7 linked regions of the Homo sapiens genome follow. The protein of the gene in region 1 purifies or fractionates together with the protein of each later gene. This does not show direct contact. Each region holds a gene or a part of one and is shown on either strand. Other genes may lie near its edges.

Region 1 (3,500 bases):
CAAAATTTAAAATAACTGCTAGACACCAAATTTTGGCAATGGACTTAAGTAAATAGTCACAAAAATTAAATGAGGTAAATAAGTCAATTTCAGGCTGGACATGGTGGCTCACGCTTGTAATCCCAGCACCTTGGGAGGCCGAGGCGGGCAGATCACGAGGTCAGGAGTTCAAGACCAGCCTGGCCAACACAGTGAAACCCCGTCTCTACTAAAAATACAAAAATTAGCTGGGCATGGTGGCAGGCACCTGTAATCCCAGCTACTTGGGAAGCTGCAGCAGGAGAATAGCTTGAACCTGGGAGGCGGAGGTTGCAGTGAGCTGAGATTGCGCCACTGCACACCAGCCTGGGCAATAGAGCCAGACTCCATCTCAAAAAAAAAAAAAAAAAAGTCAATTTCAGTAAAAATTAATGGAATAAACCAGTAAATATGTAAAAATTAACAGAATTGTTTCTTTAAATAAAAAATACAAAAGTAACTAATCAAAGCTTGCAAATTCCACAATGTTTTGTATTAAACAATAGCACAAATTTTAACTAACCTTTCAAAACAATATTAGCAAGAATGCTTGAAAAATTAACAACACAAATTATTATTGTTTGTCATACAAAACAAAATTGTCAAGGCAAATCATTTCCAGAATTTACCTTGTAGGGTGTTTGGATCAATGAGGTGAATGGCACTGGTTACTCGAATACACACACAAATCTGGTTCATATTTCCCAGGCTTTGTGCCAGTTTTGGAGACAGACAGACAACATTATCCTAGGCATAAGAACTAACATTTAGAATGAGGCATATCCTAAATAACAGTCCAATAAACACTCATCAATAAACACCCAATCCAATTGCATTTGACCAACCAAAACGTTATTTTCAATTCTATCAATCAACAAAGAGACTAAAGAAAAGAATCAGACCTTAAGTATGACAGGCATCTTGTCTTAATAAAAATGCTTTAAAAAAAAAAAAATCCTGGCTGAGCACGCTGGCTCACTCCTGTAATTCCAGCAATCTGGGAGGACAAGGTGGGAGAATCCCTTGAGCCCAGGAGTTCAAGTCTAACCTGGACAACATATGGAGACCCTGTCTCCATATACATATATATATATATTTTAATTAGCCAAACGTGGTGGTGCATGCCTGTGGGCCTAGCTACTTGGGAGGCTGAGGTGGAATGACAGCCTGGGCCCAGGAGGTCGAGGCTTCAGTGAGTTAAGGTGGTGCCACTGCACTCTAGCCTAGGTGACAGAGCAAAACTGTCTCTCAAAAAAAAAAAAAAAATCCAGGGCCCAAATCACCAAGCTATTATTATTTCCATTTTATTGCAGTGTGAATGCCTCTTATCACTCTATATGTTAATACAGTGTACATTCTAAACAGAGTATTATAAACATTAGCAGGAGAGTGATTCTATAAATCCACCTGTGACTTCTTTCAATCTCCATTAAAAAATAAACTTCAAAGGAACACATTTCTCTTACATGGCTACATGTGCCAATATACAATCAAAGATTTAAGCCCAAAAAAGTCACATGTCTACATTTATATTGGGAGACATGAAGCAGCAACGTAATTATCTGTTTTTAAACTGAATTAAAATACAAAAAAGATCTGAGTTATATTTTAAGGTGTATCTATTCACAATCATAACAGCTCTTAGTTCAGTCCTTGGTTTTTAATACATGAGTTTCCAAAGATAAACAAATATACTTTTTTACATAGTTTAATACATATGTTAATTTTTACATGTGTAAAACTCAGTTACACAAGGCCTAAATATGCCCTCACACCTAAATTCATATTTCTCAAGATTTGTACCAGGGAAACATTTACTGTTTTAAACCAGAGGTTGGCAAAATGCCACCCTCAGGACAAATCTGACCCACCATCTGTTTTTGTAAATAAAGTTTTACCAGAACACGGCCCTGACATTCCTTTACATATTACCCATGCTACTTTTGTACAACAGCAAAGCTGAGTAGCTGCAAAAGAGATTATACGACCTGAAAGTTAAAAAATTTACCATCTGTCTCTTTACAGAGAAAGTTTGCTGACCCTATTTTAAGCTATCATTTCATCCCTAGTACATACTATAAAATAGCAATAGCAGTTTTAAAGCTTTGGAGACACAGACCTGGGTGCAAATCCTAGCTTCATCATTTTGTGATCATGTAACTTTGGGCAAGTTATCTAACCTCCTCAAACTTCAATTTCCTCATCGTCAAAATGATATGGCTTACCTCAGTTATTATGAGATGAGAATGAGGTGAAAGACACTAAAGTATCTAGATTAACTTTATGTAGAATGGTCACAATAATGGCAGTTATCATTCTTAGTGATTTAATACTGACATATAAATTCTTACATGGCAGAGACCTGTAGTTATACAATCCTCAGTACACAGCCTTCTATACTATAGATACTCAATAACTATTTATTGAATTTTAATTCATATTTTTCTGAAGCAGAGTTTTATCTTAGTACAATTAAATGAAATAATCTACATTTTAAATGTTTTATTCAGCTTATGTTTTAAAATCATAAAAATGATTCTATGATCTCATTTTCACATTATCACAATATTCTTTCATTTCTTGCCAAAATTTTGTTTGTACATATTCCACAAAGTGGCTCACTAATATTGATTTTAATGTCATTTCTTTTATTCAATTTCACTGAACTATATGATACAGGCTCATAGGATCACAAATTTCAAAGAATACGGACTTTTATCAACTATAACCAGGTCTTTTCATTTTAATACACCAAAATAAAAGGCATGTCAATTCATAATTATAAGCATGACTTTTTTAAAAATATATATCTTTTAACATGGCTGAATGTGTTAGAAGTCACTTAAGGAACTTATTCTAAATTTTTAACCAACCCTAGAGGAAAACCAGGAGCTACAAATTACATATAAGCCAATTAATTACTTGTACTCTTTTACAGATATGGATTAAATGAAAAAGAAAAGTACCTTGCATATTGGAACAATTTCCACAGAAAAAGTGCTTTTGTAATTGTATGTGTTACTATGGATATCTTGAGAGATCAGTCTTTGTGATGCTTTGTATCTATTAAGAAAAAAGTTAGTAGTAATATAAAGACAAAGATCATTAACCTGTATGGACTCAGGAATATCAATTTTCATTAAATCAAACCATCATTGTCCAAGGTCTAAAATGGCTTCATGATGCCTCCTCTGGTAAAACCTACTGTCCTGCACTTGCATGTCAAAACCTTCACCATTCTAACTAAGCCCTACCTATTTTGAACCTTTTCCACCAAACCTCTAGAACATGCTGTTGGCTCAGACCAATCTACTTTCTATATAGCATTATTAAAAGCCATACTAACGCCCACTGCAAATCTTTGTTCACACTAATAGTACCTTTCAATATAAACTCCAGCTATGAAAATTTCCCGATCTTTGGAGCACAAGTCCTACCACCTCTGTGAGTGGGTGGTTAACCCAATATATGCTTCCTGATTG
Region 2 (5,000 bases), on another chromosome or scaffold:
ACATTTCAAAGATTTTATGTCTTATATACAGGAATATAAGTGAATGACATTACTAATGTCAGTGGTAGAGAATGTAATAACAGTGCATATCAGGATTTAACTTTGTTCATTTTCAGTAATGTTTTCAGCCAGTGTCTTCAGAAATTAGTTTCCTTTACCTCTCTTCTCCTTTTGTTGGATATCTCTGTTCTTTTACGTTGGTTTAAGTGGAGTTATAAAGTACTTGTATTTTATTATAAATTCCAAATAGAGTATAGAAATATAAAGTTCATCTATTTGGACTTCTGTGGAAAAGGGATTGGAGAATCAGACCATTGGATCCATTCTTGGGTAAGAAGCCTTTGGAAATTACTTGTTTTGTGAAAGTAAAGTTTCAGAAAATCTACTTGCTCCTTTTCTTATAGGAAATAGTTCAGCAGTTAATTGAAAATAGTACAACATTCCGAGACAAGACAGAATTTGCCCAAGATAAATATATTAAAAAGAAGAAAAAAAAGTAAGTAGTTTTTATTTTAAAAGGCCCACAATATTAAACTTCTTATATGTTTATAAAATATACATTTTATTACAAATAAAATATTTTAAGTCATTTTTTTAAATCAGCGTTCTGTTTTTTCTTCCCCCAGATATGAAGCCATCATTACTGTTGTGAAGCCATCCACCCGTATTCTTTCAATTATGTATTATGCAAGAGAACCTGGAAAAATTAAGTACGCTTTGTTTCCTTTCAAAAGTATAATTGGGGGAAATATGTCTTTAAGAAAGTCATGATTTTAAGTAAAATGAAAAAGCTTGCTCACCTGCATAAAGTATCCTCCTACCTCATAAATTGTAAGTCCTTTTACTGTCACCTCCAAAGCAATCAATAATCTTATCAACACAATTTTAATAAAGCAAACAAAACTTGAAAAATGATGATTAAAATAATAGGCTTTACTTAGCTAAAAATGAACAAATTATTGTTTTTACTTTAGCCACATGAGATACGATACACTAGCCCAGATGTTGACGTTGGGAAATATCCGTGCTGGCAACAAAATGATTGTGATGGAAACGTGTGCAGGCTTGGTGCTGGGTGCAATGATGGAACGAATGGGAGGTAAGATTTAATATTTCCATTTTCAACAAAACCCCACCCTGATGTGAGTAAAGGTGGTCCAAAAATGTAAACTCATGGAAAGCCAAATTGAATTACTTCAGGGTTAACAAAGTGACTTGGGTGAACCTGCACGGCTCCTAGCATGGGGACCTTCTTACACAGTCTCCATCACCCAGCCCCCCACCCATGGGTACCCCCAAACCCATGGCAATTGTCCTTTCTAGCTTCACTGTCAGTGGGCATGATGCTGGAGCCTGTGGCTGGCTAGGGCTTTCGGGACAGTGATTTTAGTAAACTCCTGGGTAGCTGGTGCTCATTTCATTGGGCCTAAATTGAAGGGATTGAGTGGGAAGATTACTAAGCATGTATTCTCTCTGGAAGAATACAACACAGCCTGATTTGTCTGGTTTTTTTCTGACCCCATAGAAGGTAAGAACTTGTAACTGCTCCATTTGAGGATCGGAGTGAGGGGAAGCAGAGTCCGTCACCAATCATGTGACATCCAAATTTGCAGACACAGGGTTTTACAATAGTATCAAGTGGGGATAAGCTTCTTTGAGTCTTCCTGCTATCTGCTTTAGAATTATATTACCTCCATTGGTAATACTCATAGACTCCAAACAGACTCCCTGAGGAGCTGCACCATCCTTCAGCCTCTGAATAAAGTACTAATAGAAAGACCTTCAGTCTCATTACTGTGGAGGACTCACTGAGGGTTTACGTAGTCTAGAGTCACTCCACGGGCAGATGTTTGTTTCTTTTATCTGTTCAGGTTTTGGCTCCATTATTCAGCTATACCCTGGAGGAGGACCTGTTCGGGCAGCAACAGCATGTTTTGGATTTCCCAAATCTTTTCTCAGTGGTCTTTATGAATTCCCTCTCAACAAAGTGGACAGTCTTCTACATGGAACATTTTCTGCCAAGATGTTATCTTCAGAGCCAAAAGACAGTGCTTTGGTTGAAGAAAGTAATGGCACACTGGAGGAAAAACAGGCTTCTGAACAAGAGAATGAAGACAGCATGGCAGAGGCCCCAGAGAGCAACCACCCAGAAGACCAGGAAACAATGGAAACAATTTCTCAAGATCCAGAACATAAGGGGCCTAAAGAGAGAGGAAGCAAAAAAGATTATGTAAGGATGCCAAGAGTCCCCACCACCCCCATAATCTCAGTCCCTCAGTTAACTTCAGTTAAGTCATGAGATTTAGTTTGGCTTTGGTGTATTAGCTCCCAAGATGATAACTATCAAAACAGAGAACGAGTGTGTGTACATGTATACAAACGTGTGATTCGGTCTTCGGGATGGAGCTTTAGGATACAGAAGCGTTGCATAGATAGCTTAATCATGGTTTTTATAGTATATAGGCTTTCTTGTGTATTTGCAACTTCCTTATAAACAACCTGCTTCTATTGGTTTAGTCCAAGTTGATAAATATTGTTGAAATGTTTTGACAGGCCAGAGCATTTCCATAAATTTGACTGAAAGACCCCAGTACATTGATTTCTTATTTTTCTTTTTGAAGATTCAGGAAAAACAGAGGAGACAAGAAGAGCAGAGGAAAAGACATTTAGAGGCTGCCGCTCTGCTGAGTGAAAGAAACGCAGATGGGTGCGTTGATGGAAGAAGGCAGGAGACTCCTCAGTGCATGTGGGCTCTGCTTCAGACAGATTGGCATTCTCTTTCTCCTTGTCTGCTTTGACTCTAGTGGGACCCGAGATGAGGATTTTGTCTTGGGGGTTTTTTTAAAGAAAGGAGGCTGAGGCTGGCAGGGGTGGGGAATTGATGATGCTGGTTTCAGGGTTTCAGAAGAAATTGAATCTTCTCCATCACTGCATCAAGATGGGCCCTGTGGTCCCACTGGATGCAGGGGATGGGGCACTCAAATGCTGCGATACAGGCTATAACAGATATCCACAAAGCAGCTTATGCAGTGTTGGATTTGTTTCCAGGTGATTTTTTTTAAAAAATCAAGAATGTCATTAAATGCGACTTAGAGTTGCCAAGTACCACAAGAGCTTCTAACCTAGTTCGCGTTTCCTAGAAAGAAATAGCTCATGATTGTATTCTGTTTTGGATTTCTAGAATGTTATATTTAAATCTCTTCTCTTTGTGAGTCATGCAAATTAAATACATGATCATTTTAAATGCATTTTAAAACCTGTGCTCCACTTTGAGGGTGTAGAGAAATAATTTGTCTGGCATTTTCCTTACAGTTTAATTGTAGCTAGTCGTTTCCACCCCACTCCCCTGCTGCTGTCTTTGCTGGACTTTGTGGCCCCTTCAAGGCCGTTTGTGGTCTACTGTCAGTACAAAGAGGTAATACTGGAATGGAATGGGCAGGAATTCTTATGTCTGAATGTTGATTCTTAAACTGCATCCCAGGAAGTAGTTCTTAACAGAATTCTGTTGTTGTCTGCAGCCTCTGTTGGAATGCTACACAAAACTGCGGGAGAGGGGAGGGGTCATCAACCTCAGGCTGTCTGAAACCTGGCTCAGAAATTATCAGGTACGTGTTCTTACAGCCAGTCCCAAGAGCTGCCCTCCCGAGACTTGACTTTCCTTGCAGTAGTACTAGAAGTCATTAAATAGAGTTATCTCAGCCAGGCACAGTGGCTTATGCCTGTAATCCCAGCACTTTGGGAGGCCAAGGCAGGCAGATCGCTTGAGCCCAGGAGTTCAAGACCAGCTTGGGCAACATGGTGAAACCCTGTCTCTACAAAAAAAAATACATAAATTGGCTGGGCATGACCCTGTATCTACAAAAAATATAAAAATCAGTCGAGCATGGTGGCAGGTGCCTGTAGTCCCAGCTACTCAGGAGCTGAGGTGGAAAGATTGCTTGAACCCTGGAGGTCGAGGCTGCAGTGAGCCGAGATCCCACCACTGCACTCCAGCCTGGGTGACAGAGTAAGACCCTCTCTCAAAAACAAAACAAAATAAAAATAGAGATGTCTCTGTTTCTTTCTACAGGGATGGAGATTTCTCATGGCTGTTACTCAGAGAATATGCCCCTGACTTTTTGTGACCCTTTTTTTCTCTTGTTATGTCAGAATATATTACTCTGTAACTCTGCCCTAAAGGCATTTAAAATGCAAACCATTATGGTTCTTATTTCCCCAAGGCCTCAGTATCACTGTGGATGATGTAATTGACAATAGCAAAATTCCCAGGTGGATGAGAAACTGGCCCTTTCCTCTCTGCCAGGATGTTTTTGCAGCAAGTTTTCAGGATTTACTGGTGGGCTCTGTGTCAGTTCAGGTCTTCTGGAAGACATATGCTAAGATGGAAGTTGAAGTGTAAGAGATTTATTGAGGGAAATGCCTTAGAAAGATAAGGGGAGAGGGAGCAAGATTGGTGGTGCAGGTTGATGCCTGGGCAAGGAGCGGGTAGAGAAAGGAGGATGGTAGGAAGAGCCTGCAGTGCTGCTCTGGAGAAAGTCTCCATGAGGCTGATGGCGAGCCCAAGTGGAAAGATCGCCATTCAAGGAGCCCTGTGTTAAGCAGAAATGCTCCAGCTCTGGTACCCATGCTCAGTTACTGACTGGAAGCAACCCATGGCCTCCCTCGGTATGAATGCTGCAGTGGATCCCAAAGGAGCGGCAGCTGGAGGTGTTCTACTGCCTGAATGCCTCTCAGCTGTTCCCTCATGAAGGGAGATCTGAGGGGAGCACCTCCATGCTGCCGTAGGCCCCGTCTCATTGCTTGGTGTCTTACCATACTGTAGTGGGGATGCTATTGAGCCTTGGGTAACCCTGCCCTTTGTGGAGGTTGTCTGTCTTGGCTAAGGTTACAGGAGAAAGAGGAGAGAAGTTGCCTTGGCAGAGTTAACAGGGTAGCGGGGAAGGGAGGTTTGGAGTGTAGTACATTCAGTAGCAACTTCTCCATAGACCCAAGCTCCATTA
Region 3 (4,516 bases), on another chromosome or scaffold:
TTCACAATGCAATGAGGAGAGGTGACCTAATTTGTGCCTGTGAAAGCCAATGCCACAAATTAGAGTTGGCCTATGCTGACGTCTATGTTGAACCCAATGCTCTGTCTACTTAAATGATAGCTGCCAGCTTCACTGGGGGCTAATAACAGTGTTTACGGAACCAGGCAAAGCAGAAAATTGAGTTTGTGTTTACTTTTCCCCCCAATATGCTTTAGTATGCCAAAATGCCTTAATAACAGCTGGGTGGTTGAAGCAAAGCAGGCCTCCCAAATAACAAGGGCATTTTCAGAATCAATGTGGGCCGAGCCTGTGAGGTCCAAGGAGAGGCCTTCATCTCAGATATGTAACTGATCTGTACTTGACCTGTGAATTTATCCCCATGTTCTTTAAGCAGCTCACACCCTTCCCCACATTCCATTCAATATCACCAGACTAGATTGTACCGTATGTGAACGATTTAGGAAAAAAACCTGAAACCAAGAAAGTTGAAACAAATAACTCACAACAGGGGAAAAAAGGAAGAAAAGAATTAAAACTGGGGCAAGAAGTACTCACTCAATGTCTGCCATTTTGGTCAATAAATGTATTCGAACTGAAGATGGAAAGTCAACTGAGGGAAAAACAAAATCAAATGAGTTAGGTCACTCTCTACTGTCAAAAAACCCACAGAGGACAAATGAGTTTCAACATGAAATCCTTAACACTGAACTAGTCCTGAGGCCTCAGCCTGCTCACTAGATACCAGACCTCTAAGAAAGTAGAAACAGTGCTGGTTTCATACTTTTTACCCACTCGATTTTGTGCTTTATAGGGTAGACAAAAAGGAAAATGAGCAGATACCAAAGTGATCCTAAGAGCACCAAAGATCACACTGCTCTTAGCAGCTGGGTAGCTCTACAAGTTAACTTGAATGCTGAGTTCCCACTTGCTGTTTTTATTTTATATTTTACTTTATTTTGAGACGGGGTCTCACTGTCTTGCCCAGGCTGGAGTGCCATGGCATGGCGTGATCATGACTCACTGCAGCCTTGACCTCTTGGGCTTGAGGGATCTTCCACCTCAAGACCCTTGAGTAACTGGGGCTACAGGTGTGCGCCACCTTGCCTGGCTGTTTTGTACTTTTTGTAGAGATGCGGTTTCACCGTGTTGCCCAGGCTGGTCTCAAACTCCTGGGCTCAAGTGATCCACCCATTTTGACTTCCCAAAGTGTTGGGATTACAGGCGTCAGCCACTATACCGATCCTGTCCCCATTTAAAAACCAAGCACAAACAACTGATTTTTTAAAGTTGGTTTATGCTCAGCTTCCACAATCAAGGTGCAGAGCTGGGCCTGAGCCAACCATACCTTGGGCAGAAGGCATGGCATGGGCCAGCCAGGAAGAGGCCTGTGAAGGCCTGGGCAGAACCAACATTCATTGACCCGGTTAAGTCTCCATCTTGCAGTTGGCCACTGTGGAAGGAAGAGCTTCTCCGAAAGCCTACACAAGTCACCTGGGGAGCTTAGAGAATACGGATGCCTGGTTGTCCTCCGAGAAGCTGACTTAATTTGTCTGGAGTGCCCCTATCTGCTGCCAAGGTTGAGAACCAATTCTCTGTGTAGAAGGTACAGGCAAGTGTGGAACTTAAGATGTTTTCCTTAAGCCTGCTTTGGTTTACATGGTTTACATATCTTCTCTTTCTTTTCTGGGAATATATATCTAGATAGACAGATAGATAGACAGACTTTTTTTTTTTTTTTAGAAATGTGAATTAATATATACTACTTACTGCTATAAAATATAAACCCCTAGAGGAAATAAAGTTAGCCTCCAGGAGTTTTCACTTTCCCCAGCAGTTCTAGATATTAAAAGAGGGTTTATGGAACACGTTTTTTGTGTTTTGTTTTGTTTTTTTTTTTGAGACAAACTCTAGCTCTGTCGCCCAGGCTGGAGTGCAGTGGCAAATCTTGGCTCACTGCAACCTCCACCTCCCAGGTTCAAATGATTCTCCCACCTCAGCCTCCCACGTAGCTGGGATTACAGGCGTGCGCCACCATGCCAGGCTAATTTTTTGTATTTTTAGTAGAGACGGGGTTTCACCATGTTGCCCAGGCTGGTCTTCAACTCCTGACCTCAGGTGATCTGCCTGCTTTGGCCTCCCAAAGTGCTAGGATTACAGGCTTGAGCCACCGTACCCAGCTCTGGAACAAAATTTTAAACAGTGGCAAGACAGAACTGCTAACAAGAAGGGTCTGATTTACAATTCATTAGTTTCTTTGCTTCAAGAATGAAGCCTCCTGTCCTAACCATCCTTAACCCCAAAGCAGGCTACCTTCTCCACAGCTTCTCAGCTGGGGGATAATGTAAGTTACCTCTATGCACAAACAAGTGTATCTCTGTCAGGATATCATGCAGTGCCAACCCCTTCAGAGTTTTCAACTCTGTAATATCTAGAGGAGCAGTTAAGGCAAAGGGAACAAGTTCCAGAACAAACATACTGCAGAGAATTTTGAATCCAAACCCGGGCAAGAGACTTTTTAAAGTAAGGCTTTTAATCCCAACACAACTGTTTCTCTTTCAACTTGAAGCTGCACGTGTTGGACTCCAATTCTTTATTTTTCTTTGTTTCATCTTCAGTAAGGGCTTTCTGAAAGATAGAGTTGTAACTCCTTCTAGTAGAGAATAAAGCCAACTGCGTTTTCTTTTTCTTTCTTTCTTTTTTTTTTTTTTTAAGATGGAATCTCCCTCTGTCACCCAGGCTAGAGTACAGTGGCATGACCTCGGCTCACTGCAACCTCTGCCTCCCGGGTTCAAGCAATTCTCATGCCTCAGCCTCCCGAGTAGCTGGAACTACAGGCACCCACCACCACGCCCGGCTAATTTTTGTATTTTTAGTAGAGACGGGGTTTCGCCATGTTGGCCAGGCTGGTCTTGAACTCCTGACCTCAAGTGATCTACCGCCTCAGCCTCCAAAAGTGCTGGGATTATAGGCATGAGCCACCACACCCAGCCCCAAATGCATTTCCAAAAAGGCTTTGTGTCACCATTCCTAGCCTTTCATTTCACAGCACAAGAGCTATCACTATCATGACCACTTGAAAATTCCTGCATCTTCAATGCCAAGGCCTAAGCTTTTCTCCCATCTGTGAGTGAAGCTGCTTCAAGCCTTACCCTGACTTGAAGGTCAGAGCCCTCCAAGAAGAACTCTGGAGTGCTAAAGACAAGTACCCACTCCACCTACAGACATCTCACTCCCACAACAAGCTGACCAGAGTCGCCTGCAGCCAGTCATCCTTTGCCAGCAAGGTGTGGGTGCTGGCTGCAACCTGAACTCCTGGGGCCACCTTCAGGTCTCGGTGGCCAGGAGGTCATGAGAAAGGATACTTCTGTAGGCTGTGGTGAAATCTTGATTCAACATCCAGTCCAGGATGTTGGCAATGTCTGACTTGAGCGGGTGCCCGGTGCAGGTGTAGACAGTCTCCTCTGTCACCTTCCCAAAGGCCATATTGGTGCTCTGTGTAGACAGAGGGGGAAAGGGGAGATCACAGTGGCTGTCACAGCTGCCACCAAGCTGCAGGGAGCCAAGAAGAAATTGCCAAGGCAGCAATGCAGGTGAGCAGCAAAGTTCTATGGGCACAAGGCAGTGGGAACCCACATATTCAATACCGGAAGAGTCACCTCATCAGAGGATGCCACAGCCTGTTGGCTATTCCAGTGCCAAATCCTTCCCTCCCTTTGCCTTCTTTGCAACAAATGATTCCTTTTGTTTTTAAAACATTTTCTTTTGCTCTCTCTTTGTTTTTTGAGACAGGGTCTTGCTCTGTTGCTCAGGCTGAAGTGCAGTGGCATGATCATGGCTCACTGTAGCCTCGACCTCCTAGGCTCAAGTCACCCTCCTGCCTCAGCCTCCTGAGTAGATGGGACTACAGGTGTGCACCGCCACACCTGGCTCATGATTTTTTAGTGGAGACAGAGTCTCACTATGTTGCCCAGGCTGGTCTCCAGCTCGTGGGCTCAGGCAATCCACCTCCCTCGGCATCCCTAAGTGCTGGGATTACAGGCGTGAGCCACCATACCTGGCCTGCAACAAGTGATTTTTTCAATTAATCAAAATACAAAGTGAGGAGGGGGAATCCTGCAGGTTATGAGACCAAGGTCTTACCAGCTGTAGATTTCAAAATTTACAGATTGATCATGCCTTTGCTTAGGTCTTTCTTCAAAAACTATTACAAAACAATGACTCAGGATTTGCTGGGACCAGGCTGGGCATGGTGGCTCATGCCTGTAATCCCAGCACTTTAGGAAGCTGAGGCAGATGGATCATTTGAGGTCAGGAGTTCGAGACCAGCCTAACCAACATGGCGAAACCCCATCTCTACTAAAAATACAAAAATTAGTAGGGCGTGGTGGCGGGCACCTGTAATCCCAGCTGCTCAGGAGGCAGGAGATTCGCTTGAACCCAGGAGGCGGAGGTTGCAGTGAGCTGAGATTGTGTTGCTGCACTCCAGCCTGAGCGACAGAGCAAGACTCTGTCTCAA
Region 4 (5,000 bases), on another chromosome or scaffold:
ACAACAATGTCCAAAAGGAGAAAGATGAGGAGCAGCAAGCAAAACAGACCATGATAAACGGACTAGAAAGGCAGGAGGAAAAGCCTGAGGGAGTGAGGTCCTGAAAGCCAAGTGAAGACGCCATTAGGGAGGAGATGCCCTCCATTGGCTCAAATATTGCTGACAGATTAAATGAGGTGTAAGAAAAATGCCTAGATTTAGTACAGAAAAAAATTAGTGATAATCTTGAGGAAAAATAGTTCTGGAGGAGTGCTGAAATTGAAGACTTACCGGCATTGAGATCAAGAGTGAATGGAAAGAAAATTTGAGTTCATGAGTGTAGACAGTTCTTTAAGGACAATATACTTAACGCTCATGACTGAGAATGATGTAATTTTCATCCACAGTCATGGAAAAGTGATAGACAAGAAATAGTAGCTTCCAAATTTTACATACCAGGTGGAGTTTTCAAATTTTATGTAACCATTATATATTCTAAAGGTTATAAAAATTATACACATATGGCATTTAGAAATGTCAGACCAAGGTTTTAAAGGCCCTTTGAACATTTCTAGATTACATAAGCTGATTATCATTTTGTTCACGCTTATACATAAAGACCAAGAAATACTAAAACTCTCAAGGAGAATATTTCTTGCTTGATAAAAATCAGCCAATTCTAGGACAGTTGACACTCATCAAATATACGAAGTAATTGATCACAGTAAAATACTGAGTTCTATTAACAGGAATAAAGTGGGAGAAATGCAGAAAATAATCTTATTTTATAAATGTAGTTTTCAAAATCATATGAAGTCACTGGAAAAATATGGTGAGGTAAATACTGAAATATATCCTTTTCTCAAAGGGAGGATAATGTCACACATGCAGGGCACTTTTACAAATAAAAGTCACTGCATTAGCAGCACCTTCCTTTTAGCACAAGGGTCAGCAAATAAGCACCTGTGGGCCAAATCCAGCCCACTGCCCGTTTTTGTAAGTCAAGTATCTTGGAACACAGCCATGCTTATTCACTTTACAGTCCATAGTGTCAGTTAGCTGGGTGTGATGTTGCACACCCGTGGTCTCAGCTAGTAGAGACTGAGGTCAGAGGATCACTAGAGCCCAGAAAGTCGAGGCTGCAGTCAGCCATGATCACACAACTGCACTCCAGCCTGGGAAACAGAGTGAGACCCTGTCTCAAGAAAATCAATATATGTAGTCCACAAAGCCTAAAATATTTACTAACTAGCTCTTTGCAGAAAAAGCTGGCCAACTCCTGGTTTAGTAGATCAAAGATTCTTTGATGTATTTTAATAAAAGTTTTACCAAATATACTGAAATGTTTATATTAAATATAGATCCCCATGTACAATCGCTTGGCAATATTCAGATTGAGGGTCCAATATTTCAGCACTCAGGCACTGACAACAAAAATTTAGTAACTAGCAATCTTGTTGCTAACAAGGTACAGTGTCAATGTAGCATGTAGCTTCCATTTGCAACACAGCAGATATTACAAGAAATTTAACAAGAACTCTTAAGATGTGTCATCAAACTAAACGCTTTAAATACATTTTAATTGTGAAATAATCAGTATACCCTACATCTAACCTCATTTTTTAAAAATGGTTGCATAATACATTATTTTGGGGATATGGAAATTGAGCTATTTCCTATTGATAAGGAATTAGACTAGCTCCAAATTTTTTACATAATACTATAATAAATGTCCTTATACATAAGTATACATATAACATATCTATACAAATATCCTTTACATGTATTATATATGCTTACTGTTATATATGTGTGTGTGAATATGCTACTCAATTAATGTTCAAAATGTATTTACCAACAGTATATGAAATGTCTTTTTCAATGAAACCATTTCCCCTGCAGCAACACGGATGGAGCTGGAGGCCATTATCCTAAGAAAACTCATGCAGGAACAGAAAATCAAATGCCACATATTCTTACTCATTAGTGGGAACTAAACATGAGAACTCATGGACACAAAGAGGAGAATAACATACACTGGGGCCTACTTGAGGGAGGAGCATGGCAGGAGGGAGACGACCAAAAAACTACCTTTCGAGTATTTTGTTTACTATGTGGCTGGTGAAATAATCTGTACCCCAAGCCTCCATGATACAGTTTACCTATATAATAAACCTGCACACGTACCCCGAAGCTAAAATAAAAGTTCACTGAAAAGAGAAGAAAATGTCTTTTCCCTCACATTTGCCAATACTGGTTATTTTTCAAATAAATTAATGACTGGAAAAAAAACGGTAACTGATTGTTTGCTGATTTTCATTTTTCTGATTAACAGGCAAGGCTCAATATCCTAATAAAAGTATAAAATTTGTTCATCATGAATATTAGCTCAAATTAGGATTAGTTTGGCAGCACAAAGTTACCTCCTGTTCAATGTTGCCATAGGCTTACCTGTGATACTCTTCATTCTCAGTGTCAGGAAATTGCTGGCTTTCAGGTGTTCTGCTCTTCCTTGGAGGAATTAATCCATCATCACCATTGCCAGCAGTGGCACCATTAGTCAGGTTTTCTGGGAATCCGACATGAGTACTTCTGTGCTTCTTCATTTCTTCGATAGCCATAAAATTTTCTAGCTGGAAAATACAGAGAATAAGAAATTATCTACTTTAGGCACATTATCTATTGATAATCAGACTAAAACCAAGAAAGATAAAATAATTGGTCTAAAGCTCCTAAAGTGGCATTACCTAGCATTTTATGGCACCATTCGGGATTATTCCATAATAATGAAAGAATAGCTCTAGGGTTTGCACCTCTTCAAAATTCAATGTACAGAATTCTGAGTTAACTATTTAATTTTTCACTGATGATTTATGCTACTTACATGATAGGATCATGTATGCCTACATTTACTACACTTTGTTAAACAACATAATGTAAAAATCTAATTCAACACAAACGTTTGAATATAAAGGTATACCTCTCTATCACCATCCTTATTTATTTCTGGTTCTTGAGATCTTTTCTGCAGATGTAAAAACAGAAGGTTAATTTGCTTGTTGTATTTCTGTGACATTTCCTCTTTTGGAGTGCATGTTTTTAAAATAATTTTATTCTGAAGTAATCAAGTATGGACAATAAAAATTAGAAAGTAATTAAAATTAAACTGTTAAAATAAATAATAATTAAAATTAAGAATTAACTTTTTAATCTATGTTTAGCTACTGCCACATCACTGGCTTCTAACATGTGAAAAATAATTCACCTTAGACAAAGGGAGAAGAAAAACATGAACCAGCAAACTTAACTTTCTCACTATTTGTTTGGACTAAATTTAATTTGTTATGTGTTAAATCTACCAAAAATGAATCAGCAGATGATTTGTAGTGTTCCAAAATCTTCCTCACTTGAAAAGAGTTTACCTCATGAAACCCTAACTAGTGAGCACCTACAGTGCACTGAAGTGCTTTTTTAAAAGATTCCTAACTGGATTGTAGGCACCCTTTAAACTATTAGGAGCCGAAATCAACACCAAACAGAAAGAAATGCAAATTCTCACATTTTAATTGAAATTATATACTGTCATATGATAGTGTTATGTATCCAGATTATCTGCGTAAGTCCAGTTCTAATATATTCTAATGTGTACTAATGACAGCAGATAAAATTTTTTAATCTCTACTGATTTTCTGCAACTGAAATAAATTAGAATGTTATTGTGTTTGTGCACTAACACCAAAGGTCCCATTCTGCAAGATATGGTTCTTGTAATAGGCAGTTGGGTTGCTTTTATGACCTGGTTCCCTCCCTGAACAGAAACACTGAGGTCAACGAGAGACCACAAGGCAGGATATGTCCTTAACCTTGGTATCAGTGACTGACAATATAAAACTGTGGATTTTCAATCACAGGCCATGATTACTCTTTAACCATGAATCCAGCTCAGGGAATCAGTGTTACATTGTTCATAATTCCTATTGCTTAATAATATGATTCAATCATTGATGTTACTTTCTTTATCATGTTAGGGTGTTGTAAAAATAAAAGAACAAACAAAGTTCTGAAATTTGTTTTTGCCTCTATTCCAAAAGGAGAGATTAGCTATAAGCTAATCAAGAAGGCAGATAAGAATATTTTAAAATAAGAGTATTTTAAATTTTATAGTGGGTTATGTTGAAGTTAAATATCAAATATTAAATTAGAATCTATTGATTCTTCTGTTAATAAGGTTGCTGATTTTATTACAATAAATTTTAAGAATCTATTAAAATTTTTTTTTTTTTTTTTTTCACATGGAGTCTCGCTCTGTCACCCAGGCTGGAGTGTAGTGGTGGATGTCGGCTCACTGCAAGCTCCCTCTCCTGGGTTCATGCCATTCTCCTGCCTCAGCCTCCCGAGTAGCTGGGACTACAGGCACCCACCACCACGCCCAGCTAAGTTTTTGTATTTTTACTAGAGACGGGGTTTCACCATGTTAGCCAGGATGGTCTCGATCTCCAGACCTCGTGATCCACCTGCCTCAGCCTCTCAAAGTGCTGGGATTACAGGCGTGAGCCACCTTGCCTGGCCAAAAGATTCTTAAAAAAACAATCTACTGATTCTCAAAGCCTAGTCTGAAAGGTAATTTCATTTGGACTATCTAATATTATTAAGGCAAAAAAAACACAACATTAAACAAAAGTTTAAATTTAAAAGTTTCCATGCCTCTGGCTGGCCATTTTCACTGCCTTTAAGCCTTTGTGACTCTTCCTCTGATGTCAGCTTTAAGTCTTGTTCTGTTGAAAAATCCATACATTCAGTTAAAATCAACCACTTAAAACAGTTAAAAACTATTGCCTTTTAAAAACAGATTTGAGACATTTCATTTTATTTCATAAATTGAGTGTTTCATCTTTTGTGAAATTGTCATTTAAGAAATAATTCTCAAAAACTTCAAAAACCCACTTGGGGAGATAGCAGATGTCACCAGATTGAAGACAAACAAACATGTCAAAAATTCCCTCACAAATTCATCCACCCAA
Region 5 (3,705 bases), on another chromosome or scaffold:
ATGCAGAGAAATCTGTGCAAATTCATCTTCTTAGTATCAGATGGTTAAAAAAAAGGAAACAAAAAACAAAAGCAATCCAAATTATTTCTTTAAATACTCTTATTTATACTCAGGAAAACAGATTTGAAAAACTGAACAAGTAGACATCTGCCCCGTTTATGATTAAATAACAATGCCAATGAAGGAGATTCCACAGAAAAAACTGAGATGAAAAAATCCAAATAAAAGCCAACACTGCTATTAAGATTTTTCTTTTAATATGCCATGAGATATCTTGATTGTATATTTTCCAAAGTACTTTCCAGCCACATCTCCCAACCCATCCAAAAGACTTTGCCAGTCTTTCCAATGCAATAAAAGATGCTGGATTATAGTTTTGTCTACCATTTCTTTTTGAAAGCAATATTATACTAATGACTTTAATGGTAATACACTCTTATCTAATAAAGAAACACATTTACAAATATCAGAAACCCAGTTTTGAAACATTTGCATTAATTTTGAACTGAATCAGCATTTTGTGGGTTTTTTAAAAGGCAGCAGTTTGACTCACGACTTGCTGATAAACACGTTTCTGCTGAGGGAAGGGGAAAAGACAGGGAGAGTGAATGCTGCATTTCTCCATTGGCCCCAAAAGTGCTAATTTCACAAAGGGATACATCAAAAGCAAACATGCAATGGTTGTTTTAAAACTTTTACTGCAATATAACAATGAAGTAAACAGTAATTAGACACCTACCAATTTTTTCCCCAAAACAAAAAAAAAATGTAAACAGGAAAATAACTCTGCCTATACTTGTACAGCTTCTCAAATCATGTTAGAAGGGTCTCACATTCAATGATCAAGAAATTTTAAAATAGCAGTAATTATTTTCATTTTAAGAAAAGGTTCCCTTTCTCCCCTCCCACCCCAAGTATTTAACATGAAAGAATGGGCTTCCTTACATATTAATTTTATACTTATTTTTGAAGCAGCAACAATTAACCATCAATTTGGCATTTCTGTTTACAGTCGCTACAAAAATTTTTTAAATTTCACAAAGCCATTATCCAGTGTTGCCATGAAACAGAGACTGTAAATTCTAGGTAGCTAAGATTCTTTCTGAAACCAATGTTAAGTCAAAGAAATATAAAGCAGGGCATTACACTAAGTTTCTGGATCTAGTACACTAAAAAGAGTGAAACCTAGGAAAAGTTACCTACTGTTTTACAGAAGAAATAAAGACCTGCAAAAGCTGATTTTTGGTTGTATATATTTTACACACTGTGTGGAGTTGCGGCATCTGCTAATTGAAGCAGACATGCACTGTATTTATCCCTGCCCTGTATCCTAGATCCCTCCCTCCCCACCCCCAACAATCTACTACCTTATACCAAGTATTGTGGATATGAGCCCAAGTCATCCCAGACAATCCAGTGAACAAGTTAGTGTAATGCACTGGTGTGAAGTGTGAGATATAAAAAAGTCCCTTTCAATCTTCATCAAAGTTCTGCTGTAGAAGAAAATTGGCAGCCAAATTCTCATTCTTCTCACAAGCAAAATACGCTTGTATCACAAGTCCTTCAGGAAATCCTAATGCCTTTAACTGGAAGAAAAAGGAAAAAAATATAAATCCAACACACCAATTATGGCACATTTAATTTTATTTACATATTATAGATTCCAGCATAGCACTAAAGATAAATCATTACTCAAAAACATACTGCAACCCAAAAAAGCTCTTGAGAATTTTACATGAATTCATCTCTATCAATATGGATTTACTGCCCAACCCAAGGGATTAGATGGAATCTAGACCCTTTCCTTTACTAATCACCTAAAAAAGTCTTTGTTTCTAGTTAAAGCTTAATAGATACTATGCAAATACTCTTTGGCCTAATTAAAAATTAGCTGCTAACTGCTATGGTTTAAAAATAAATGACTCTACAGAAATATGTAAATCAAATGGCTTTTAGTATATTAAGAGTGAAGATAAGGATGAGAGTACCTGCAGTATAGTTTAACCACCTCACCTATTTCTAAATTAAAAGCAAATTATGTTTTATTTATTAATGTCAACTCATGTCTTTCATTTGGATCAAACATCACTCTCAATCTCCTTGCTTTATTCAACACTCCATACTAGAAAAACAGGTGACCAATTATTAGTAATACATGGTACATTTTGAAGATAATGTTCTATTTTTATCTGCTTAACAGTTACAGCATTTTAAATGGTAATACCAGCTACTTAATTTCATTTTCCTAGTCTATTATATTAAAAATCACTTGTGACAATACTCACTCCTTTTAAAAGCCTTTAAAAACTCAGCCAAATGTCACCCTCCTCAATTGTCTCAATCACCTTGAGTTAGATCACAGGTCCCAAACCCCAAGACCGTGAACTGGCACCAGCCATTGGCCTGTTAGGAACTGGGCTGCCCAGGAGCAGGTGAGCAGTGGGTGAGCAAGGAACTGGGCCGCACGGGAGGAGGTGAGCAGTGGGCGAACAAGTGAAGCTTCATCTGTATTTACAGCCACTCCCCATCACTCGAATTACCACCTGAGCTCCGTCTCCTGTTGTATCAGTGGCGGCATTAGATTCTCATATGAGCATGAACCCTACTGTGAACTGTGCATGAGAGGGATCTAGGGTCTGTGCTCCGTATGATAGCCTAACAAATGCCTGATGATGTGAGATGAAACAGTTTCATCCCAAAACCACCGCCCCACCCCACTTCCTAACCTAACTAACGCCTGATGATCGGAGGTGGAACAGTTTCATCCCAAAATCACTGCGCCCACCCCACCTATGTTGGTAGAAAAAAAGGTCTTCTACGTAACTGGTCCCTGGTGCCAAAAAGGTTAAAGACTGCTGTGTCAGATTATATTTGGAAATAACCCTTAAAATTTGGGCAAAAATCCCAATTCATCACGAATAACTATTCATCTATGAAAGCAGAAGAAACTAAAAAATCAGTTTGTTATCTGGGTTTTATCCAGATTAAAGCTAGGATAGGTGAAGTAAAGGGTACAATCCAACTGCCTGCTTCTACAAAACACACAATTTAGATTCAAAGACACAAGTAGGTTGAAAGTAAAATGATAGAAAAAGGTATATACTATGCAAATGGTAACCAAAAAAGAGCTAGAATGGCTATATCAGAGGAAACAGATTTAAGATAAAAATTGTTACTATAGACAAAAGGCATTTTATGATAAAAAGGGTTCAGGAAGACACAACAATTATATATAACAGAGCCACAAAATACATAAAATAAAAACTGAGAATTAAAGGTAGAAATTGGCAATTAACAATAATAGAGACAACTACAGCTCCACCTTCAATAATAGATAAAACAGCTAAGGAAGAAGACTTGACTACAAACTAGATCTATCAGATATTTATAGACCACTTAATAAGAACTACACTATATTCTTCTTCAGTATACATAGAACATTCTTCAGAAATACCATGTTAGGCCACAAAACGAACCTCAATAAGTTGAAAAGTATTGAAAGTATATTCTCTGATTATAATGGAATGAATTTAGAAATCGAAAGGAGAAAATGTGGGAAATTCATAAACTTGTGGAAATTAACACAATCCTAAATAACGAATGAATTAAATTAGAAACCAAATGGGAAATTAAAAAACATTTTGAGATGAAAGAAAGCAAAAATACAACATACTAAAACTTATGGGATGCTACTATAGCATAAAC
Region 6 (5,000 bases), on another chromosome or scaffold:
CTTTTCACAAGATTGCCTTTTCACACGGTCTTAAGTTTCTTGTTAAAAATAATAAATTTTCTCAGATAACCAAGGTCAAATTCACCTGTATCAAGTGCCAGTGTATTTTGTCTTTTGCAGTGTTTTTGTATTTTGAGTGTATTTTGTCCTTTGCAGTGTTGCTGTCCCTGTATATAATTAATACTGTTACAGGATCAGTAATCCCTTTGTAAATTGCATTTAGGGAAATTTGATCTGTGGATCTTATATGAGAGTTTATAAATACATATTCCTTGCATTCTCCCTTTTAATATTCATATGATCCTAAATATTTGTTAGGTTGCTTCTGGCCACTTCTTTACACTTAGGATTGAACTTGGTGCCATTTCGTATGTTTTGTACGAACACAATGTTATTTATTCTACATGCAGTTCTTTGATTTGAATATTTGGGGTCAAACTAATCCAAGCAAAGAAAATTGATAGAATAAAATTCCTAGGCGACAACATTCCAACTTCTTATCTATTAATTTGTTGAGTTTGCAGTTTTAAAATCTGGGACCTGCACCAAAATGCATTCATTCACAAATGTTTAATGATTGCCTTCAGTGGAAAAGCCACATTATGAGGTTCTTTGAAACATAAACTAAATATTACTTTCAGATGCTTTTAGTGTAGGATGTAAGACACATATATTTAAAACAGCAATACAAAGAAAAAGCATAAAATATTAATGTCAGTATGCTCTGCAGATATGTTCGTTTTCTGAGAACTTTGTTATTCAGCAATCTGTCAAAAGTACCACTGTTTCTTATTTCTCCAAAATTGGGGGAGATTCTTATAATGATAAAGTAATAGGAAGACAGTACCTGGGTGGGGAAAAGTTTGATTGTGGTCCTACTGCCTATAGTTGCTGCCCAGTAAATGTCTGAAGAGTGAATGAATATGTCAAGTAGTGGAAGTGTTGTTGCATCTGAACACTCTCCTTCAGTGGTAATACAGGCAGGTTCTGAAGAGAGGTTATAAAATAATAGTTTTCTGTTGGCATGTGAAGTAATCCAAAGACTAAGTGATAAAATGTAGCAAGATTAAATTGAAGTTGAATTCATCTTAATGAACAATGGTTTAGGGTCTTTTTTAGCCCCCTCAGATTGATCTTTAAGATTCATCTATTTTATTGTAATGAATTCATTCTTTCAGTTAGCATTTATTGAGTACTTAACTATATGCTAAGTTTGGGGGACCACGGTAGGAGCTCAGCCTACTTAAAAGGACAGACATATGAAAATATGATAGGTGCTATAACCAAGGCATTGTGCCGCACACATGAGATGATTTTCACCTCTACAGGCAGACGGATAGTGGACTGGGCCAAAGATGTTAAAATGTTAAAAATGTTTCATTCTTTTACATTGTGTTTAAGGTAACCCTAAAGCTACTATTATTAGTTGCATGAAAGGATGTAGTGAATTGGGTAGGGGAAGGAGACCACAAGAAATGGAATTCATTTTGATGGTTTGGGCAAACCAAGTTCAAGTATATATATTTTAACATCCTCACTTGTAAGGTTATAAAGAGTGAATTGAGATCTGTTAACTTAGCATTTTAAAATTATTGCTCTGAAATAACAGCTCCCTGTTTTCAGTTATAAATGTTGCTTAATGAGCATCTTCAAAAATGTTGATGTTCAGACATTGGAGATAATGCATTTATTATGTTGTAATCATAAATGTTACCTTTGGCATGCAAAACTTATCCAAGTTAGAGGTAGGAAAAAATATGATGGATAACTTTAAAAATAAAATGTTCTAAAAACAACTTTGCTCCATTTTTATGTAAGAACTCTCATGAAAAAATTATTTTGGCTACTTTAAATTTTTTTATTTTAAAATGAGCTGTTTTGTTATTGTATCGGTTGCTATTTCTTTGCTGGATTAAAACAAAGGCATTCTTTTTTATGTGGTAACATAAAAATCAGATTTATTTCTAAATTTTGTCCAGGCGTAATACTTTTATAAGAAAATTCTCTTTTAAAAAGTGGTAAGTAACCTTAAGTCTAGGTAAATATTAATACTACAGTACTTTCTTGAAAAGTCATTGAACCATGGAGTATAGTTTCTACTATGATAAGACAAATTAATGGTGGTCTATTTTTAGTATCCATAAGAAATTTATATAAAGTTTCTTTGCCTCCAATTTTATTTTTAAATGCTCTCAAATGAGTTATGTGACCTAGCAATATATCAGTATTGCTTATTCTTGAGTAATAGGTTTCTCTGTGATTGTTTGCAATCTAGTGTGCTATCTACTAACAATAACGGATTCTTTTATAGTTTAAAAACTGCTATTTCACTGTTAATGGTGGTTTTACATGTTGTGGAAATTAATTTCCTAATCATTTTACTTATTTGATCAAATTGAAAATCTTAACTATATTTTAAAACTTTTTGCCACAGCGTTTTACCAACGAGGATCATTTGGCTGTCCATAAACATAAACATGAGATGACACTGAAATTTGGTCCAGCACGTAATGACAGTGTCATTGTGGCTGGTTAGTATATGCTTTTATTAATAGCTTGTATACATATTTCACCTGGAATGTGCACAATTTTTGTGTATTCTCTGTAAATAATATAGTCTGGTGATATTCCAATGACTTCATTATAGTAAATGTTGGCAACATGTATTTTACCCATTACATTTTCATGTTTCCTTCTGACTATTCATTTCATTTTTTTGTGTGGTTTTCAAATTTATATTCCAATGTCGATTTTGTGGAAGTTCATTAGAACTCTGGGAACATTCATACCATCTACAAATTTTACATTTAACTAATAATTGAACTAACATGGTATTTAGTCAGCATTTCTTTTAGCTGTCTTGTACAACTGACTTACAAGGCTGTGTGAAGATAGAAAATGATCAAGCTTCTCCCATTGGAGAAAGAACAGTGAGCAGACTTGTTCATTAGAGTTGTTTATATTTCTTTTCAGACTAAACATTTGTATTAGTAAAATATTCTCAGTAAGGAGGCTCTAAATTCAGTCAATGCAGTTTTTGTGTGTTGACACTATGAACGTACAGTATCACCTAAGCAGATGATTATTTTTCACTGTATGTGAAAAGAAAAACCCAGTTCATACATTGGTTGATTGTCATTCCATGCTGTATTAGCTGCCTTTTTTTGGTATTTAAATATATACACACACACATCTATGTATATATACATATATGTCATGTATAATTTTGCTACTTTTTTGTATATTTTATAAGTATTATGATAAAACAAAACTATATAAATTTCAGATCCTTTGTGTCATCACAGATTTACATATCATAAATATTCAGATTAACTCCAGATTTTTCTTTTCTCTTGTAAAGCTTGTTATATGTCATATAAGTCTGGAATTACACCCAAATACTGTAATACTTTTAAATTATTAATCAGTATAGAGACCAAATTGTTCTATGCAGTGTTTTGGATAGATAATAAAGCAAATATTCGGTGGTTTTCCCTCTACTTACAGTATTGAAATTTTTGTAATGAAGAAATTGAAGGTAACAAAGTTAATTTATCGAAAACAATATACGTAGGAAAAATGTAGGGGAACTTCCAACATATCCTAACTAAGTTCCATAAGTAACTTAGAGATATGTTACTTATACAGAAGAGTGAGATAATGCTTTTTTTTTTTTGGAGTATTTTACATTAGACATTAAGAGCTAGAACCAAAGGAACCAAACAAGCAAAATAGTAACAACCTCGAAAGTTCACTCTCCTAGGCATGAAGCTCTTTGTTTCTCTGAAACTTTCTGCCTTAGCACAATCTCTGTCTGTGTGTAACTCTTTAACTCAAATATGTTTTGAAATTGGTTTCTAGAAATTACTTTCCTGTCTGATCACATTTAATGCAGTAGAAAAATAGAGCACATTCAAACACAGTACTTGACCTTTTTTTTCACTAACATGTTGAGATGAATAGGTTAACATTACTATGCAAATAAAATGCATGATGTGTGTGGTATATTTTTGGTGATCAGTAGCCATATGCAATGTGCATGTTAAATGATTGTGCCTATGTTGACTTTTCTGAAGTCTGATGGTTCCAGTAATCATTGATAAAAGTGACTTATGCTTATGTATTTTATTTTTTTAAGATTTTCCCCTCCCTTTAATGTAAGTTAAGAGCCTTCTGATGAACTTAGATAGACAAACCCTTTGGGTGTGAACAGAAGAGTCACATTTAGATTTGACCTACTAATTTAGTCATGATGGACTTAAGCTAATACATGTACTTTACTTACTGTAATGTGATTTTTGAGATCTTTTGGGAGGTGGGAATTAAGGGATAGGCTAGAAACTAGTAAAATTATGATATAATAGAGTCCTTTTAGTAATTCTGATATTACTAACAGTGCCTGAAACAGGCCTGCATTATGTCTAGTTTTGTATTACAAGTGGGTCATTTTAGTGTGAAATATATTTGTACATAGTAAAAATACTAGTCCTCTAGGTATACATGTGGGGGGCAAAGGTAAAATAGGAAGTAATGCCCTCTGTGGGGACATAATGGTTAACAAATATGTAAATTTTAATCTTACAAAAGGAATTAGGAGTATTTTCTCTTAAACCAAGAGTCTTCCTTAGTAGAGTACTTTTACTTCACTTAGGCTAGATCCCTGCTATAGCCTGTAAAATTGGTGCTCTAAAATATATTAAATGTGAATAGAATTTGAATGTGCTACCAACTCTAATCAATATGAATAGACACCCTTGAAAATAGTAACACTAAATAGGCAGAATTTATAAGTTTCTTGCTTTTCATTCAGTGTAAATCTTACCTGGCATTTTTTGTAGCCTATACATGGACACTGAGTACCTATGTTAATGTACATAGTAGGAGTACATATTCGAGTAAAGTTGAAATGTTTCATGTTGTAAGAAAATAGAGTAGACTCTTTCTTTACTCCTTAGGAATTAAGCTAGAACATTCTGGAGGCATGTGACTCACACATATTC
Region 7 (5,000 bases), on another chromosome or scaffold:
TATGATGTATTTTATTAATTGATTTTTAGATATTAATCTAACCTTCTGAGATAAATCTCACTTGGTTATGGCATATAATTATTTTTATATGTTGCTGAGGGGTTTTTTTCAGCCATATTCCTAAGATATACTGGTCTGTAGGTTTTCTTTGCTTTGTTTTTGTTTTTTTAATGTCTGTCTCATTTTGGTATCAGGGTAATGGTGACATCACAAAATGAGTGAGAAATGTTCCCTCTTTTCTATGTGGAATGGTTTTTGAATAATTGGTATTAATTCTTCATTGAATGTGTGGTAGAATTTATTGGTGAAGCCATCTGGACCTTGGTTTTTCTTGTGAATATTTTTTGGTTACTAATTCAATATCTTTACTTGATATAGGCTTATTCAGATTATCTCTTTCTTCTTGATTCGGTTTTCTTCTTGAGTAGTTTATGTCTTTCTATAAATGTGCCTAATTTGTTGGTATATAATTGTTCATAGTATTCCTTTATAATCTTTTTTTTATTTCTGTAAGGTCAGTAGTAATGGCTTCTCTTTATTTCTGATTCTAGTAATTTGAGTCTTTTTTTTTTAAGTTTCTTTCTTTTTTTAAATTTTTAGTGGAGAAAGAACTTTATTTTTTTGTTTGGTTTTTGGGTTTTTTTAGAGACAGGATCTCACTCTGTCACCAGGCTAGAGTGCAGTGATGCAATCACGGCTCACTGCAGCCTCAACCTCCCTGGGCTCAGGTGATCCTCCCACCTCAGCCTCCCAAGTAGCTGGGACTACAGGCGTGCGCCACCACATCCGGCTAATTTTTCTACTTTTTGTAGAGACAGAGTTTTGCCATGTTGCCCAGGCTGGTCTGGAGCTCCTGGGCTCAAGGAATCTACCAGCTTTGGCCTCAAAATGCTGGGATTATAGGCTTGAGCCACTGCACCTGGCCAAGAACTTTTCTTTTTTATAATTTCATCTTTTATTTTAGATGTGGGGGTACATATGCAGATTTGTTACATGGGTGCATTGCATGATACTGAGGTTTAGGGTATGACAGGTCCCGTCAGCCAGGCAGTAAGGATAGTACTCAATAGGTGGTTTTTCAGCCCTTGTTTAATGGCTGAAAAATCCAACATCCGATTACTCTCAGACATTTTTTCTCCTTGTGTCCAAATGTATAGGTTATACTTTTCTGTTTATTGGCATGCCTTGTAATTTTTCATTGGAAAGTAAATTTTTAGATCATATATTGTAGCATTTCTGGGTACAGCTCCCCCTCCTTTTGGGGGCTTTTTATTTGCTTGTTTGCTTAATGAGTGGCTCAATTATTTTAGGGAAACATATCCCACTACCTCCCCAGACCCCAACAGTATTGTGCCTCTGATGTTGCTGTTCAGGGAGGTACAGTTTTAGGTGTGCCCACAATTACCCTGGGATGACACTTGCTTTGGTAGGGCTGCCTTCCTCTCTTTCCGTGAACATAGTGACTGTAAACTCCAGTAGATGCTGGCTCCTTGCTTGATTATTTGCAACAGTGCCTTAGGGCATAAATTGCTCTATAAACTAATCCAATCAAATTCTGGCTCCTTTGTAGGGATTGCATACGAGAGCAGTGCTGGATATTTATTCTGACTACAGAAGGGCTCGTCCCAGCTGTCATATTCCCTAGTTTTCTCCTGCAAACTAACTAGCCTACTGTTCAGCCTGTATCTTAAATCTCCTCCCATTTCTCTCTCACTATAACCACCACTGTTCTTTAATGGTTCCCCAACCTTTTTGGCACCAGGGACCAGTTTTGTGGAAGGCAGTTTTTCCACAGACCGGATCACCCAGCTTGTGATGGGTTTATGTGGATGGTTTCAGGATTAAAGTGTTCCACCTCAGATCATGAGGCATTAGATTCTCATAAGGAGCATGCAGCCTAGATCCCTCACATGTGCATTTCACAATAGGGTTCACACTGCTGTGAGAATCTAATGCCGCAGCTGATCTGCCAGGAGGGGGAGCTCAGGGGGTAATGCTTATGCTTCCTGGCTCACCACTTACCTCCTGCTCTGCAGCCGGGTTCCTAACAGGCCTTGGATGGGTATTGGTCTGTAGCCCGGAGGTTGGGGACCCCTGCTTTAGAGCACCCTTAGGCTTCAGCTTCTCCAAGCTCTGTTGCAGGTGAAGTCAGTTCCTTTGAAAAGAAATGAGGAGCTCCCTGTTTTATGGCCTACTTGTCTTTTCCGCCCTCCTTTCCCCCTCCCCCGACAATATCCCTGAGCCAGGACTAGAGCTGAAATTGGGGACAATGGCAGTTTTCTCTCTGAGTGACATCCTCTGCCCTAGGAGCTGAGTTTTCAGTGGACTTGTGGGGAAGAGATGAGGAATAGCCTCAGGCCCTCTTGAGTAACCTCCTGGTGTAGAACCATCCCCCTCATGAGCCAGAGAAAGAGTCATCGGGGCCCAGCATTTTCAACACACTGTGCCCAAGGTGAGCCCCTGTTCCATGAATGGGGCTGACTGGAGGAAGGGATCCCCCACCTCACAATTGCATTTGTCCAGGATATAACTGCAGCCACAGGGAGCTGGGGACAAAATGAGAAACTCTGATGTCCTGGTCCTCCTGGGAGGGAAGCTTCTGACTCGGAGTTGGGGGAAAAGAGGGCCCTGTGCTTTTGGCTGTAGCCGTCTGGCGTGGACTTTGCCTTGCTAAGCTGGGAGTGGGAAGAGGGGAAGGAGTTTTGGCTTAAACACTGCAGACTCTCTTTTTCACCAAATTTTTGCAGATTTTCTTGAATAGATGTTTCTTCATTTGCTATTTTTCCCTTAGGTCAATTTTCAGAGGCTTTAACTGGTTAATATTTTATAACTTTTAGTTTCACTAGGGAGCAGGTCAGCAGAACTTTCATGCTGTCATGCCAGAAGTCCATCTCAGCAATTACTTTTGAGTTGAACTTTTATCAGAAAAATAGCTTTGTAGCTGAGGAGGGGCAAGGAGATTTAAAAGACTGTATCTCCTTTGTCACAGCTGTTTCATGTCATTTTGTAATTCAGTCTTAAAGCCTGTGTCTAGTAGTGATTTTTGCTGTTGAGTGTGATAATACATAAACAACTTTGGAATTTGCCCGCAACATTGGTAACACATTTCACTGACATACTCTTTAATAATTGTTTATTACCTATTATTTCTTTTTACCTAGGAAGTATCAAAACTCCGCTGTCAGCTTGCTAAAAAAAAACAAAGTGAGACAAAACTTCAAGAGGAATTGAATAAAGTTCTAGGTATCAAACACTTTGATCCTTCAAAGGCTTTTCATCATGAAAGTAAAGAAAATTTTGCCCTGAAGACCCCATTAAAAGAAGGTAAGACATGAATAAATGTATAAAAGTGTCCTCTTCCTTTGGATTTGCTTTTATAGCATTTAGCAAGTCATCCATTTTATGAACTGTGAAAATTTGTTGACACCTTCTGATAAAAGCAGTTCTTACTGAGATTGTTGTGTACAATGACTGTTTTCTTCCTCCTTCTACGCTTTCTTTTCTGTATACCTGGATTCTGCCTGTTCTTCAAGGCAAATCTCAAATCTTCCTTGAAGCTTTGCATGACTATTTTGTCCCTGTCCACACACCCCAAATTACTCCCTCTATAATACCCTTAGCATTTTAACCTAAATGTCTCTTAGGTCCTTAATCATTTTCTGATTTGTAGTTTTAGAGAAGTAAATTTCTTATTTCTTGACTGTGAATGTTTGTCTTTCACGATAAATTAAAGTTGGTTGAAATGATAAATCTAAAAATTATCTTACAGAATATATTGCTTCATCTGCCTTAAAGAAGATACAAGGCCTGTTTTTAGTTTATAATGATGGATAAATTCGTTTTAATCTAGATTACTAATCCTTCTTTTCAATAATTCTTCTAGGCAATACAAACTGTTACCGAGCTCCTATGGAGTGTCAAGAATCATGGAAGTAAACATCTGAGAAACCTGTTGAAGATTATTTCATTCGTCTTGTTGTTATTGATGTTGCTGTTATTATATTTGACATGGGTATTTTATAATGTTGTATTTAATTTTAACTGCCAATCCTTAAATATGTGAAAGGAACATTTTTTACCAAAGTGTCTTTTGACATTTTATTTTTTCTTGCAAATACCTCCTCCCTAATGCTCACCTTTATCACCTCATTCTGAACCCTTTCGCTGGCTTTCCAGCTTAGAATGCATCTCATCAACTTAAAAGTCAGTATCATATTATTATCCTCCTGTTCTGAAACCTTAGTTTCAAGAGTCTAAACCCCAGATTCTTCAGCTTGATCCTGGAGGTCTTTTCTAGTCTGAGCTTCTTTAGCTAGGCTAAAACACCTTGGCTTGTTATTGCCTCTACTTTGATTCTGATAATGCTCACTTGGTCCTACCTATTATCCTTCTACTTGTCCAGTTCAAATAAGAAATAAGGACAAGCCTAACTTCATAGAAACCTCTCTATTTTTAATCAGTTGTTTAATAATTTACAGGTTCTTAGGCTCCATCCTGTTTGTATGAAATTATAATCTGTGGATTGGCCTTTAAGCCTGCATTCTTAACAAACTCTTCAGTTAATTCTTAGATACACTAAAAATCTGAGAAACTCTACATGTAACTATTTCTTCAGAGTTTGTCATATACTGCTTGTCATCTGCATGTCTACTCAGCATTTGATTAACATTTGTGTAATATGAAATAAAATTACACAGTAAGTCATTTAACCAATTAATTTTTCAGCTTGTATTTTATGAAGTTACATTCATGCTTCTATGTAAGATGTATTTATCATCTCTACCCTACCCACACCACCTTGTCCCCAGAATCACAAAAGATACTGTTTGGAAAGTGGTAAATCTCTCTCTAAAATGCCTGTTTTGCACATATCATTGGTATGATATTTATAAGCTACCTTTTTTATAATGTGTTCTCACTGATGGCTCAACAGGGACTATCAGTCAGAATTGCTTTTCATTATTATTTTATTAGATCTTAATACATGGTTGAATTTTAAA

Evidence for each region.
Region 2: the proteins of NMD3 (region 1) and TRMT6 fractionate together in Homo sapiens (co-fractionation; one large-scale study listed by BioGRID). This does not show direct contact.
Region 3: the proteins of NMD3 (region 1) and RFC5 fractionate together in Homo sapiens (co-fractionation; one large-scale study listed by BioGRID). This does not show direct contact.
Region 4: the proteins of NMD3 (region 1) and POTEF purify together in Homo sapiens (affinity purification with mass spectrometry; 2 studies listed by BioGRID and IntAct, with this or other methods). This does not show direct contact.
Region 5: the proteins of NMD3 (region 1) and RAD23B fractionate together in Homo sapiens (co-fractionation; one large-scale study listed by BioGRID). This does not show direct contact.
Region 6: the proteins of NMD3 (region 1) and ATF2 purify together in Homo sapiens (co-immunoprecipitation; one large-scale study listed by IntAct). This does not show direct contact.
Region 7: the proteins of NMD3 (region 1) and HMMR purify together in Homo sapiens (affinity purification with mass spectrometry; 2 studies listed by BioGRID and IntAct, with this or other methods). This does not show direct contact.

Annotation. Positions count from the first base shown.
Region 1 is NC_000003.12:161,238,311-161,241,810, reverse strand, and holds part of NMD3 (60S ribosomal export protein NMD3), read right to left. Parts: intron 3,082-3,500; coding exon 2,985-3,081; intron 766-2,984; coding exon 648-765; intron 1-647. UniProt on the Homo sapiens protein: Acts as an adapter for the XPO1/CRM1-mediated export of the 60S ribosomal subunit.
Region 2 is NC_000020.11:5,939,658-5,944,657, reverse strand, and holds part of TRMT6 (tRNA (adenine(58)-N(1))-methyltransferase non-catalytic subunit TRM6), read left to right. Parts: intron 1-404; coding exon 405-496; intron 497-626; coding exon 627-710; intron 711-974; coding exon 975-1,099; intron 1,100-1,871; coding exon 1,872-2,230; intron 2,231-2,621; coding exon 2,622-2,707; intron 2,708-3,312; coding exon 3,313-3,415; intron 3,416-3,518; coding exon 3,519-3,605; intron 3,606-5,000. UniProt on the Homo sapiens protein: Substrate-binding subunit of tRNA (adenine-N(1)-)-methyltransferase, which catalyzes the formation of N(1)-methyladenine at position 58 (m1A58) in initiator methionyl-tRNA.
Region 3 is NC_000012.12:118,025,865-118,030,380, reverse strand, and holds part of RFC5 (replication factor C subunit 5), read right to left. Parts: intron 3,493-4,516; coding exon 3,363-3,492; intron 2,429-3,362; coding exon 2,351-2,428; intron 611-2,350; coding exon 556-610; intron 1-555. UniProt on the Homo sapiens protein: Subunit of the replication factor C (RFC) complex which acts during elongation of primed DNA templates by DNA polymerases delta and epsilon, and is necessary for ATP-dependent loading of proliferating cell nuclear antigen (PCNA) onto primed DNA.
Region 4 is NC_000002.12:130,083,384-130,088,383, forward strand, and holds part of POTEF (POTE ankyrin domain family member F), read right to left. Parts: intron 4,755-5,000; coding exon 4,684-4,754; intron 3,005-4,683; coding exon 2,960-3,004; intron 2,613-2,959; coding exon 2,431-2,612; intron 1-2,430.
Region 5 is NC_000009.12:107,327,424-107,331,128, reverse strand, and holds part of RAD23B (UV excision repair protein RAD23 homolog B), read right to left. Parts: intron 1,587-3,705; coding exon 1,473-1,586; 3' UTR 1-1,472. UniProt on the Homo sapiens protein: Multiubiquitin chain receptor involved in modulation of proteasomal degradation. Binds to polyubiquitin chains.
Region 6 is NC_000002.12:175,118,975-175,123,974, reverse strand, and holds part of ATF2 (cyclic AMP-dependent transcription factor ATF-2), read left to right. Parts: intron 1-2,434; coding exon 2,435-2,531; intron 2,532-5,000. UniProt on the Homo sapiens protein: Transcriptional activator which regulates the transcription of various genes, including those involved in anti-apoptosis, cell growth, and DNA damage response.
Region 7 is NC_000005.10:163,487,229-163,492,228, forward strand, and holds the end of HMMR (hyaluronan mediated motility receptor), read left to right. Parts: intron 1-2,022; exon of another isoform or gene 2,023-2,155; intron 2,156-3,161; coding exon 3,162-3,324; intron 3,325-3,883; coding exon 3,884-3,936; 3' UTR 3,937-4,713; downstream 4,714-5,000. UniProt on the Homo sapiens protein: Receptor for hyaluronic acid (HA). Involved in cell motility. When hyaluronan binds to HMMR, the phosphorylation of a number of proteins, including PTK2/FAK1 occurs.